Homo sapiens: one gene and its partners. The protein of the gene in region 2 interacts with the protein of the main gene of each other region in a biochemical or structural test. Each region holds a gene or a part of one and is shown on either strand. Other genes may lie near its edges.

Region 1 (3,753 bases), on a different chromosome or scaffold from region 2:
ATCTGATTACCATGTCTTTATGGAGGGGATTATGGAGTTGAAAATACCCAGAAGTCCTAACAAACTTACCTAGTGCGTTGTGTATCATCAGTCAACTTCCAATCCTTGTTAGAGCTGAGGCCAGTCCAATATGAATTCCCTGAACCACCATTTGGCAACAGTGAATTTAAGAAGTAGTAAGAGTGCTGAGGGGAGATTCAGAGAGACCAGAGATACATGGAGAGTGATGAGAAATATGGAAGAAAATGCACACCCTAGGGAGGCCTCAGCTTTGGCAAGGGGGCTGTATATATGACAGCTCTTTGGTAACTTGTCCCTGAATCCATCAAGTGCCACCCTGCAGATGCAGGCTCACTGCTAAATTTGCCTTCCAGCTGAGTAAGAATCTCTGCCAGCCTTTGGAGGGGAGTCATTCTGTGTGCTGTTCTGGCCCCAAGGAACTAATCCCTACAATCCAGCCCACCAGGTGTGGGACCTCTCTGCCTGAGAGGCCACAAGAGTCCAGGAACCTGTCAAGCAGCCCAGGGAGCTGACCAGCAAGCTGAGATGAGATACACATTAAAGTAGAGGCCGGGCGCAGTGGTTCACACCTATAATCCCAGCACTTTGGGAGACTGAAGCAGGTGGATCACCTGAGGCCAGGAGTTAGAGACCAGCCTGACCAATATGGTGAAACCCCGACTCTATTAAAAATACAAAAATTAGCTGGGCGTGGTGGCATGTGACTGTAGTCCCAGCTACTCAGGAGGCTGAGACGGGAGAATTGCATGAACCCAGGAGGCGGAGGTTGCAGTGAGCTGAGATTATGCAAGTGCACTCCAGCCTGGGTGACAGAGTGAGACTCTGTCTCAAAAAAAAAAAAATGTAGATATGGTTAAGTTTCCATTCTCATGCCAACTCTAATCAGTTACTAGGGGCTGCCTGGACCACTGTGCTGAGAAGATGCAGAGGTTGTTTCCAAGCTCAGAGGTCAAGAGTATTATGATTCTCAGTTTCTTCCATGGAAAAGGAATGGCCACCCCAGCCATGTGTGCACTGCCATTCCTGACTTGATGACATATGTCCCTTTACCTAATAGTACCCACTGCAGTCTGTGAGTAAGGATATGCTTACTGATTGTGGATAAATTTCACTGAATGTGGCCAGCTTGGAAGACAGAGTTTCACATTGTTTTTGGCTCTCCTGCCAATTTTTTGAAGTAAGTGAGATGTAAAAGCAGCTTTTCTGATGCATTATCCATCCCGACGGACAGCAGGTGTCTAAAAAGCAGAAAGAGTGTGATAGCAGCAACAGTTGGGATGAAAGTGACTACTCAGCAATCTTTTGCTAACAATATTCCCCCAGAGCTAATCTCAGCACCTTCATGGACTTCTATGATCTTTGCAATCTTTCTTTTGCATCCCCTGGAAACACCATACCTGTCCTTACTTAGTAAAAAGACTTTAACATTCAACAACATTACTTCTTAGCAATCTGGGAGGTCTGTCTTAATAGGGCTGATTTTATTACCCCAATTTCTGAACAATTGCAGTCCACCCTGACACTTTACCTAACATCTCTTGGGCCCATCTCCTCCACTCCCTAAAGCACCCCTCACTGCACATCCTCCACTCCTCCAGCACTGGCCCCCTCCGTCCCTCTCCAATTTCCTACAAGCAGAAAATGTTGTGTACTGTTTTGCAGAAACTGAGCTCTCTCCTTTTCCCTCCTCTCCACCTCAAAATTTCTCTTCTCTGTTCTTCTTTTCCTGACTATCCATAAGAAATAAATATCCCTCTTTCTTCAACATCCTACATCCCAATGTGCACTTCTGATCCCAGGCCACCTCTCTCCATTGCTTTGTTCCATCAGTCCTACCTTCATCACTCAAAAATCATTCCCTCTCCACTAGCTCCCTCTCTTCTCTCTACATATGCTCATGTCCCCACCCTGCTACTCCCTTGAGCTACTGTCCTATGGCAACTTAAAGGAATAAAAAGAAATCCCTGCTGGGCACAATGGCTCACTTCTGTAATCCCAGCACTTTGGGAGGCCGAGGCGGGGTGGATCACCTGAAGTCAGGAGTTTAAGACCAGCCTGGTCAACATGGTGAAACCCCACCTCTACTAAAAATACCAAAAAATACCCAGGCACCATGGCGCATGCCTATAATCCCAGTTACTCGGGAGGCTGAGGCAAAAGGATAGCTTGAATCCAGGAGGCAGAGGTTGCAGTGAGCCCAGATCACACCACTGCACTCCAGCCTGGGAGTGCACTTCAGTCTCACAGAGCGAGACTCCGCCTCAAAAAAAAAAAAAAAGAAATCTGTATGGCCAAATGGAAGAGGGTGAGGAGATAAGTGGCACACTGAAAGGTAGGCAGGAGTGATGGAAGCCATGTTAAGGATTTTTATTTTTATATTATGAGGAAGAGAAAGTCAGTGTAGGGTTTTACATAGAGGAATTTTGTTCACTAGCTATATCCCAAGTGCCTGGGCACAGTGCTAGAACATATTATATGTTATGTATTCCATAACTGTTTATGTAATCAATTAACTGGAATGCTGTAGATTGGGTGACACGATCAGATTTTTGTTTGTAAAAGATTACCCTGGCTCCAATATGAAGAATGGACTGCAGGGAGAGGAGTGAGTAGGAAAAACATTTAGAAAGCTGTTGCAGATATCCTTGCAAAAGATGAGGATGGGCAAAAATCCATATGGATATATAGACTTGGTGATGGAAAGTGAAGGGAATTCCTCTCTGAAAGAGTGGAAGATGAGGACATCTGCTGAAAGTGAGGGAGAAGGAGTTACTATGGAGAGCAAGCTGACCATTGCAAAGGTTGCCAGGCAGTGCTGAGAGACTAGAGTCTCAGTGGCACTGAGCAGAATGATTCCACAATTTGTCACACCTTGATGCTGACCATGGGCAGTTGGGTTCATCCAGAGTTCAAATTTTGCCCATCAGGTACACTAGAAGGATAATGGAACAAAGAAGTGAGTGAGCCAGGTGCGGTGGCTCACGACTGTAATCTCAGCACTTTGGGAGGCTGAGGCAGGAGGATCGCTTGAGTCCAGGAGTTCGATACCGGCCAGGGAAACATAGTGAGACCTTGTCTCTATTTAAAAAAATAAGTGAGTAGTTGAAGTGATGGGCTCCAAACCCATGTTAGGTAGGGAGAGAAGTGTGGACAGGAGAAGCTGATGGGAAGAGAGAAAAAGGGGAATCAGTTGATTGGAGGCCTGGACTGATGGGAAGGGAGAAAAAGGGGAGTCAGCAGATTGGAGGCCTTGATGAGATCAAAAAAGTGTGGGGAAAACCTGCAGGAGTGGTGGGCAGCTGTGATCAGAGTGGAAGTCTGAAACCATCCTTTCGCCGGAAGAGCAATTTGGGAGGTAGAGGTCTAACATGCTGCTAAGAGCAGCCCTGGCATGGAACTGATGGTCACAGAGGGTAAGGTTAAGGAAATGAGGGCAAGGGGTGTCTGCACATAATCTTGCTGTCTTATGCCTGGGGAGATCACCCAGATGACCCCCAAGCTAGACAGAGCCTAAACCTGATCATAGCCCAAAAACACCCCAGTCCCCTTAGGCGTGGCACCTTGCCTAGACCCTCAGCCTGTTTTGATACAGCCTTGCCTCTTTTATGTGTCCCTTTCCCCATCTCCACTTACTGGCTGGGGTCCTGCTTTCAAAATGAATGGACACCCCATCCTAGTTCCCTACACCACAACTCCCAGCTCCACCTCACTGTGAGTGCTGAGCGCCTCACT
Region 2 (3,753 bases):
GTGCTGAGATTACAGGCATGAGCCACTGTGTCTAGCTGACTGGAGAAGCTTTTAAAATAGACTGACATACATCTCCCGCTGCACAACAGCTAAGTCAGAATCTTGGCGGTAGGGAGTATGGATTCTGTCTTTCCAGTTCTCTACAATAACCTGAGGTGTGATGACATGAGCCATTTTGCACACCACTGGATACCCGAAAATGCTACAAACACCTATTCAGCCCCTCATTATGCCTGTCTGTCACAGGGAGGCTGGAAACCTATAGCTAAGTAAGGAGACTGTGTGTGCTGTTCATCAAGGGAACGTGTGACTTCCACACATGCTGGACACCAGAGATGAGGCCCAAGCTGGTGAAGGGCCCACATGGAGGTAAGGATCACAGGCTTGATTGGGAGGGAAAGACAAGTGGAAAATGGCAAGAAGAGGAGGAACTGGGAGAAGCAAAACAAGGCGAAGATAAATTTAATAATTTTCTTTAAATAAATTTGTTATGCTAAAAAAAAAACCTCTAGTCATTTTCTAGAGACTTCTTTTTGCCTTAGGGATTCTTTATAGTTCCTCTCCATGTAACATATTGGGTAATACTTGTGGTTCTGAAATAAAATGCAAGCAGGGGGGTGTACACAAAAACCTTACCACTGAATCAAGGGACCAGCTGTGCAGACATTATGTAACAGTAATATTCTATAGTTCTGAACATGGCACTTGTGAATCAATAATTTTAGAATATTTTAGAAAGGACATTTAAAAAAATCACATAGGAAACAAAGTTAAAATTTAGAAAAAAGTAGAATATTTTATCCCATCTTCTAAGCACCTCAAGCCTAAACAAAACACACAGAATGAAATTTTAATGATGCCTGTTAAGCCTATTTGAAAACAAATTCTATCTGGCCCCCATAAACGGATGTTCAGGTGTTCAGGCAATCAACTCCTTGGTTCTCCAATCTGAAATGTTCAAAGGAAGGAGGTAGAACTTGGGCAAGTTTAAAGCATGTAGCTCTGTTGAATCACTTCTAACCACCCCGCCCCCAGCTGATGACCAATTTTTACACTGACCACAGCTGAAAATGTAAATGCAAATAAAAAGCTTGAGATGTTATTGGACGAGGTGTATTAAAATAAAATCAAAAATAGAAATATTAGGTATATACACAACAGCATAAGTGAAACACATCATGTGATACAGAAGTTTCCATTCAAAGCTTACAGGAGAAAAATTTAGTGAACAGAACCGCTTGAACCTCCTGCCACCGTGGCTTATTAGAGCCTTGTAGTCACTTATGTTCCTTCATATCCTTGGGTATAAATAGTCTCATACACATGCTACACAATTTAGAAAAGATTGCTGAATCATAAAAATAGCCCCGAATGTGGCACTTTAGCTTTCTAGAGTACAACTAAAATTAATACTTGATCTTTAACATAATGTTCAAATATTTGAAGCAACAAAGGAAACTCTTATGTTTTAGAAGGCCCTATAAGGTTCTTCAGAGATTAGAATCTTAGTTCTTCCAAACTACATTGTCAAAACAAATCTGGATATAGGAAATTGTGGAAATGAAAAAGCTGGACTCTTAAAAATATTCCTTCTAAACACAGAGCAGTTTCTGAGGCTCTTCTCCCTTTCCTGGGAGGTCCAGGTGAGCCCGGTGCCTTCGGGTGAGCAGACAGGGCAGCTGTGCGTGCTCACGGGCTCCTCCTGCTGGAAGAGAGAGAGATGTGCACGCCACTCCTATGGCATGTCTAGCAGGTCTGAGCAGTGTTCATAGAAGAAAAATGTTTTAACAGTCTCAGATTTTGGGAGGTAGGGGGAAAAAAATCATTGAAATCTGGGAAAGACATTTTTAAGCTGCTGACTTCACCTGCAAAATCTAACAGGTTGGATTAGTTTTTTTTTTTTTTTAAACAAGTAAGCCAAAGCACAAAGAAATGTCATGCTATGTATATATCCGGTTATTTTAGCTTTATAAATGAGTTTAGTTCTGCAATTATTGGGGATTCATTGCAATGGTCTCTGAAACTTTGAGTCCTATGTCCATTTGTAAACATAGAGCTAGTTGGGTGCATTTTTGGAGAGAATAGATGTTTTCTTCTCAAACGGCTGCACTCAGATGTTGTCAAGCAGAGCAAGATTACCAGCTGCTGAGGACAAGTCCAAGTTGCAACTGAGTGGAGAATCCATCTAAGAGTACAGAATACTTTCCCATTTAGAGGGTGTTCTTCCTGAGTAATTTAGCCTCTATTTCAGGATCCAGGCACGGCAGATGATCCCCGCACATGAAATCATAAGTGCAACCAGTGATGGTTACTTTTCCTCTCTAAATGAGGCAGCCACCCCTGCCAAATGGACGGGTCTCCCTGTGCTCTAAGGCTGCTGCTGGTATTGCCCTTCCGTGGCTGTGTAGAAATCATCCAGGACGCTCTGTAAGTAGTCAAACGTTGGTCTCTCTTCTGCCTTTTCTTTCCAGCACATTTTCATAATGTCATAGAGCTCATCTGGGCAGTTCTCCACACGGGGCATCCTGTAGCCCTGGGACAGGGCGGTCATCACGTCGGCATTAGTTCTCCCTAGGGTGGAAAAAAACAAAAAGAACAGAAACCCATGCCGTTTAGAAACCTGGCAGAGGGTCAAGCACTGCAGTGGTCTTTTTGCTCCTCACATCCTGTAACCATGATTGAAACAAGCTTTACTGAGGCTGTTAGGGGTTGAACAGCATCCTCCCAAAATTCCTAGGTTGAAGTCCTAACCCCGCGTACACCTCAGAATTGACAGCACCATATTTAGAGATAAGGCCTTTATAGAGGTAACTAAGTTAAAATGAGGCCATTTGGGTAGGTCTTAATCCAATATGACTAGTATCCTTATAAGAGGAGATTAGAACACAGACTAGTATAGGGGAAAGACCATGTGAAGACACAGGGAGGAGGCAGCCATCTACAAGTCCAGGAGAGAGGCCTCAGGAGAAATCAACCTGGCTAGCACCTTGACCTTGGACTTTGAAACTCCAGAACCCCGGAAAAATAAACGTCTGTTGTTTAAATTACCCAGTGTGTTGTATTGTTATGGCAGCCCTTGCCAACTAATATAGAAGCTAAGGAAATTTCTGCAAGCAACTCAATAAATAAATTTAGCATGGAGGGGATCAAGACAGCATTCAGTTTGCCAAAATTTGTTAAGTAGGAGCCACAGCCAAGTTCTCTTTAATAACAAAAGGATATTGGACTTGCCTCACATTTCAAATAAATCACCCAAATCTAATCCTAACTCTCAACTTTAATTATGTTTGCAGGGTAGCATGCTTTCAGCTTCAACTTGTAGTATATTTATGAAAAAAATAATTTTACCACATATTATCTTATACGGACATTTTTCAAAAATTGGCTTTTCATTTAATAATTGGTATTTTCATTTACTTAAAGTCAGCACCCTTAAGTCAGCCCAACAAATTGGTTACATGCTTGCCAAATAGTTAAAAACTTAGGGATTAATTTGGAAAATAATGATGGTTCAGTTAATCTGAAGGACACTTGTCTGTAGTTTGTGCTACATATCTTGTGGATGTCACTGTCTTTTAAGAGCAAGATATTAATTGAGGAGGAAAACTGAACCCCAATCATAGTCTCAAGTGGAGCTACTTCACAGACGCAGTTAACTGTTCCAATCTGCAGTACCTGGCCAGAGTGACAGCTCACTCTGACTCTGGATTTGCATATTCCTGACCTCCAGGAGAGAAGTAAGGTGCTCATTAC
Region 3 (3,482 bases), on a different chromosome or scaffold from region 2:
CTCAGTTTGAGTTTTTTCTTTTTTTTTTTTTTTTGTCCACTAAAAACACACTGATGGTCAACACAGGTCAAAACCAAGAGAGAATGTGTAGTTTTCAAGGTCTTGGCCAGAACCTTTAGGAAAGAAGACCTGTTTATACATTGAAGGAAGAAAAGAAGGAAGCAGTTGCCTTCCGGAGGGGGCTCTGAGAGAATCTAGCCTCCCCTCTGTCCTATTGGAGCAAAGATTGGAGTGAGTGTTGCCACCAACAGGATTTTATCGTTTGACTCCAATACCTGAAATTCTGACTTCTCTCCTGTGCTTCAATGAGAATGATAAATTATCCTAGCAAAGGGGCCTCTGGAGACCATCTTGTTCCAGCCTCTGAAGACAGTTGAGGAGATCAAGCCCAGCAATGGTGGCAGAATCTTACTCCACAGACTTCAGCAGACTAGTCATTTCAATACCCAAAGAAAGACAAGTGACAGGGGCAATGGATCTCAGGCTCTGAGATAAGTATATCAGATGACACTGGTGGCTCTAAGGATATTGCAATTAAGCAGCTACCTGTAGCCAGGTATTCTGCTGCTCTTGGCCTTTTCCCACGCATCGTCTCGTGTCTTCTCCGAAAGACCTTGGAAGATAGGCCTGGAAGAGACTGTTGATGCCACTTTGAAGAAAAGAACACTGAGAACTAGAGGAGGGAACACTTTGCCCAAGATTACTCACAAAGCCAAGACCCAGAGTCCAGCTTAGAGAATAGAGTTGTTCAGGCTGCCAATTGCAAGCTCATTCCTCTACCTCATACTTCCTCTGAGGATTTTGACAAAATGGATTAATTGGGTGAGCCTTGGAGACATGTGGGAAACACCTGCAGACACAAAATGAGTAGTCATCCTGTCTCCCTTTCAATAGGGATCTGAACAGGTGTTTTGATACTTGAAAGATGTGCATGTCAAGTGAGGGTTTCTTTCTGCGATGTTCAACTGGAACTCTCCCATCAGTAGTTACAATTAGAAATACCTACTGATGGTTAGTCTGAAGGCCATTCTCATGGTCACCTATACAGTGTGTTTCCCTGTGAGCTAGCAGACACAATGACCAGGAAAAAACCTATGAATTCCATTCTTAGGTTTCCCAGCCAATTGCTCCCTTCTGCTTTAGAAGTGACTAGGTACTGAGAGTACAAACACTCCCACTTTATAATGAAGGCGTCATGTCACCCCTTCCTTTACAGGTCCTGGGGTCCAGGAGACCCAGAATGAAGGTGTCAGTTGGGCATGAAGTGTTATTTAGTGTCCATTCTTGATCCTTCTGAGCACCTACAGCTGGAAACTAAGCAGATACTGGTCCTGCATTCTGACTGAGATTGTGTCTTCTTTATGAGGATAGATCAAATTGGCAGTCAGGCCCATGATAGTCAGTGCAGTTGGGGCAGTTGTAGACTTTGCTACAGGATTTCAGGGTTTCCAATCACCCCACAGGTAAGTGAATGCCAAAGTCTTCTTTTTTCAGACCATACAAGAAGTCATTTTGATTTTCAAAGAAGCCGTTTTGATTTTCAAAGAAGCAGGTTCTGGTGACATTATTTTCTTCCTTGGACAAAGTGGGGGGAAATTTCTAAGTATTTTAACTGAGTTCAGGGTCCTTAGTGAGCCTGGACAGAGCAAGGAGAGGGCTCCCCACTCCCTAAGCCCCACAGCCAGCTCTGCATCACCACACACAGCCAGAGCCTGTGAGGAGCTGCCTTCTTCCCCATGTGACTTGCAAAGAGTCTCAGGCAAGAAACCAGGGCTTCAAACTGCTAGTTCCCATGGAGGGTAGTTCCCTCGTGTGGAGCACTTGTGTTAGGATCACTGATTATCTGACAAAGGCTGGTGCAGAAAAAAAATTGTAGGCCCAAGTGTCAAGAACCACACCAGATTGGAGATAGAAAAGAATAGCTGAAATTATGTCAGTAGTGAAATGTCACTCCATTGACCCACCGAAAAAAGAAAAGAAATCTGTTTCTACCAAACATTTCCAGAAACGTATTTATAGCATGAAGAAACACACATGGGTAGTGTGACCTGTTTGGATGTGATTACTTAAAAATGGAATGCTCTGAATAGGCACTCTCTACATTAAAGGTATGGAAGGCGATAGGGGTCAGAATTTTAAAAATTTAATTTTGAAAAAGGTGACTCACCCCTCATTTCCAGAGTGTAGGCAATTATGTCCTGCTTTGATAAAACTGCTAGAGGATGGCTATGCAAAAGCATAACGATTCAAGGAAACAAAGTACAGGTAGTTTTTGAGCTGACAGCAGCAAAGGCACCATAAGTCAAAATATTGGTTTTGGTGGAGATGATCGATGTGTGTGTGTGAGAGAGAGCTATGTTTCTAACCAAGGGCCTAATGTTTGTTACAGAAATGATCCCAGAGACCTACAAGATGTGGGAATCAGCATAACAGGGCAATGCAGCAATTAACCCCACATCGTTTTCTGTAGTTCCTTTTTGTTTCATTTTCTTCTGTCTCACCTCGTTAGAAAATTCCTCCCAGTCAGGGGTCGTCCAGTGCAGGACGGGGGACCCAAGGGTCTCAAGCCTGCAAGTCCAGAAGGTGACAAACCCAGGAGCACTGGGAGTTAAGCTTTCCTTGGGGAGGGAAGAGCCTTGATGTCCAGCACACAGCCTGGCTATAAAGACACGAAGCGACCTACCCACTGTACAGTCCACTTCACAGGATCAGCTGAATCATGACCTTTAAAAGTTCCGAGTTGAAACTGAAGGCTCTCCTCAGACCTGGCTTTTTCCTCAGTCCCTGTTCATACCATCTCTGCACCCACAATCACACTGATTTTTCAAATTCATTTTGTTTTTGCTGTTTCATTTCTGGCATTAATAAAAGTCTTATAAGGAGAAATCGTGACTTAAGTTCTTTTTTATTTAACTGATGACATCCAATATAAATAAGGAACATGTTTTGAAAGCGGAATATTTGAAAATGGACTTCATAACCACTTTTACGTTGAAGTACAACAAACTTAACCTGATTCACGTGCATGTTATTTCACTGCAAACATTTGAGCAGGTGTCTGTAATCAGTACTGCTTCGGCTCAGCCAAACCATATCTTGTCATTTTCTTAATTTCTTCGTTGGAAACTCGCTTTGATAATTGACACTAAAATCAACTGCTCTCCCTGACACCATGTATAACATGACCTTCGTGATTACTTGCATGAGAAGGTAACTGCCCTACGCCTGCCTGCCCCAGCAGGCATCTCTTTTGCCACCACCTCCCTTTTCTCCATAGCTGAGTCTCCCAGATGCCCTGGGTGCTGGGTCAGTGGCATCTCGAGGCCGTGAAACAAGGAAAGGACAAAGAAAGTAGGGAGGGGGCGGGCTCAGGTTTGGGGGAAACAGGCCAAAGGCATAGAGAGAACAGGCCTGGGGGATCCTGGGACCTAGAGAAAGGACAAAAAGCCACATTAAATCCCTCACCCCTGGTGAAGTATGAG

What was found.
Region 1: of the proteins of LYN (region 2) and CD72, one has a biochemical effect on the other in vitro, tested with the Homo sapiens proteins (one study listed by BioGRID).
Region 3: the proteins of LYN (region 2) and GAB3 form a complex in vitro, tested with the Homo sapiens proteins (one study listed by BioGRID).

The regions. Positions count from the first base shown.
Region 1 is NC_000009.12:35,611,735-35,615,487, forward strand, and holds part of CD72 (B-cell differentiation antigen CD72), read right to left. Parts: intron 1,260-3,753; coding exon 1,114-1,259; intron 186-1,113; coding exon 70-185; intron 1-69. UniProt on the Homo sapiens protein: Co-receptor of B cell receptor (BCR) that plays both positive and negative roles on B-cell functions. Recognizes the Sm/ribonucleoprotein (RNP) self-antigen ligand, and coligation of CD72 and BCR inhibits BCR signaling.
Region 2 is NC_000008.11:56,008,726-56,012,478, reverse strand, and holds part of LYN (tyrosine-protein kinase Lyn), read right to left. Parts: intron 2,572-3,753; coding exon 2,369-2,571; 3' UTR 1-2,368. UniProt on the Homo sapiens protein: Non-receptor tyrosine-protein kinase that transmits signals from cell surface receptors and plays an important role in the regulation of innate and adaptive immune responses, hematopoiesis, responses to growth factors and cytokines, integrin signaling, but also responses to DNA damage and genotoxic agents.
Region 3 is NC_000023.11:154,674,653-154,678,134, reverse strand, and holds the end of GAB3 (GRB2-associated-binding protein 3), read left to right. Parts: 3' UTR 1-66; coding exon of another isoform or gene 67-144; 3' UTR 145-2,389; coding exon of another isoform or gene 2,390-2,395; 3' UTR 2,396-2,886; downstream 2,887-3,482.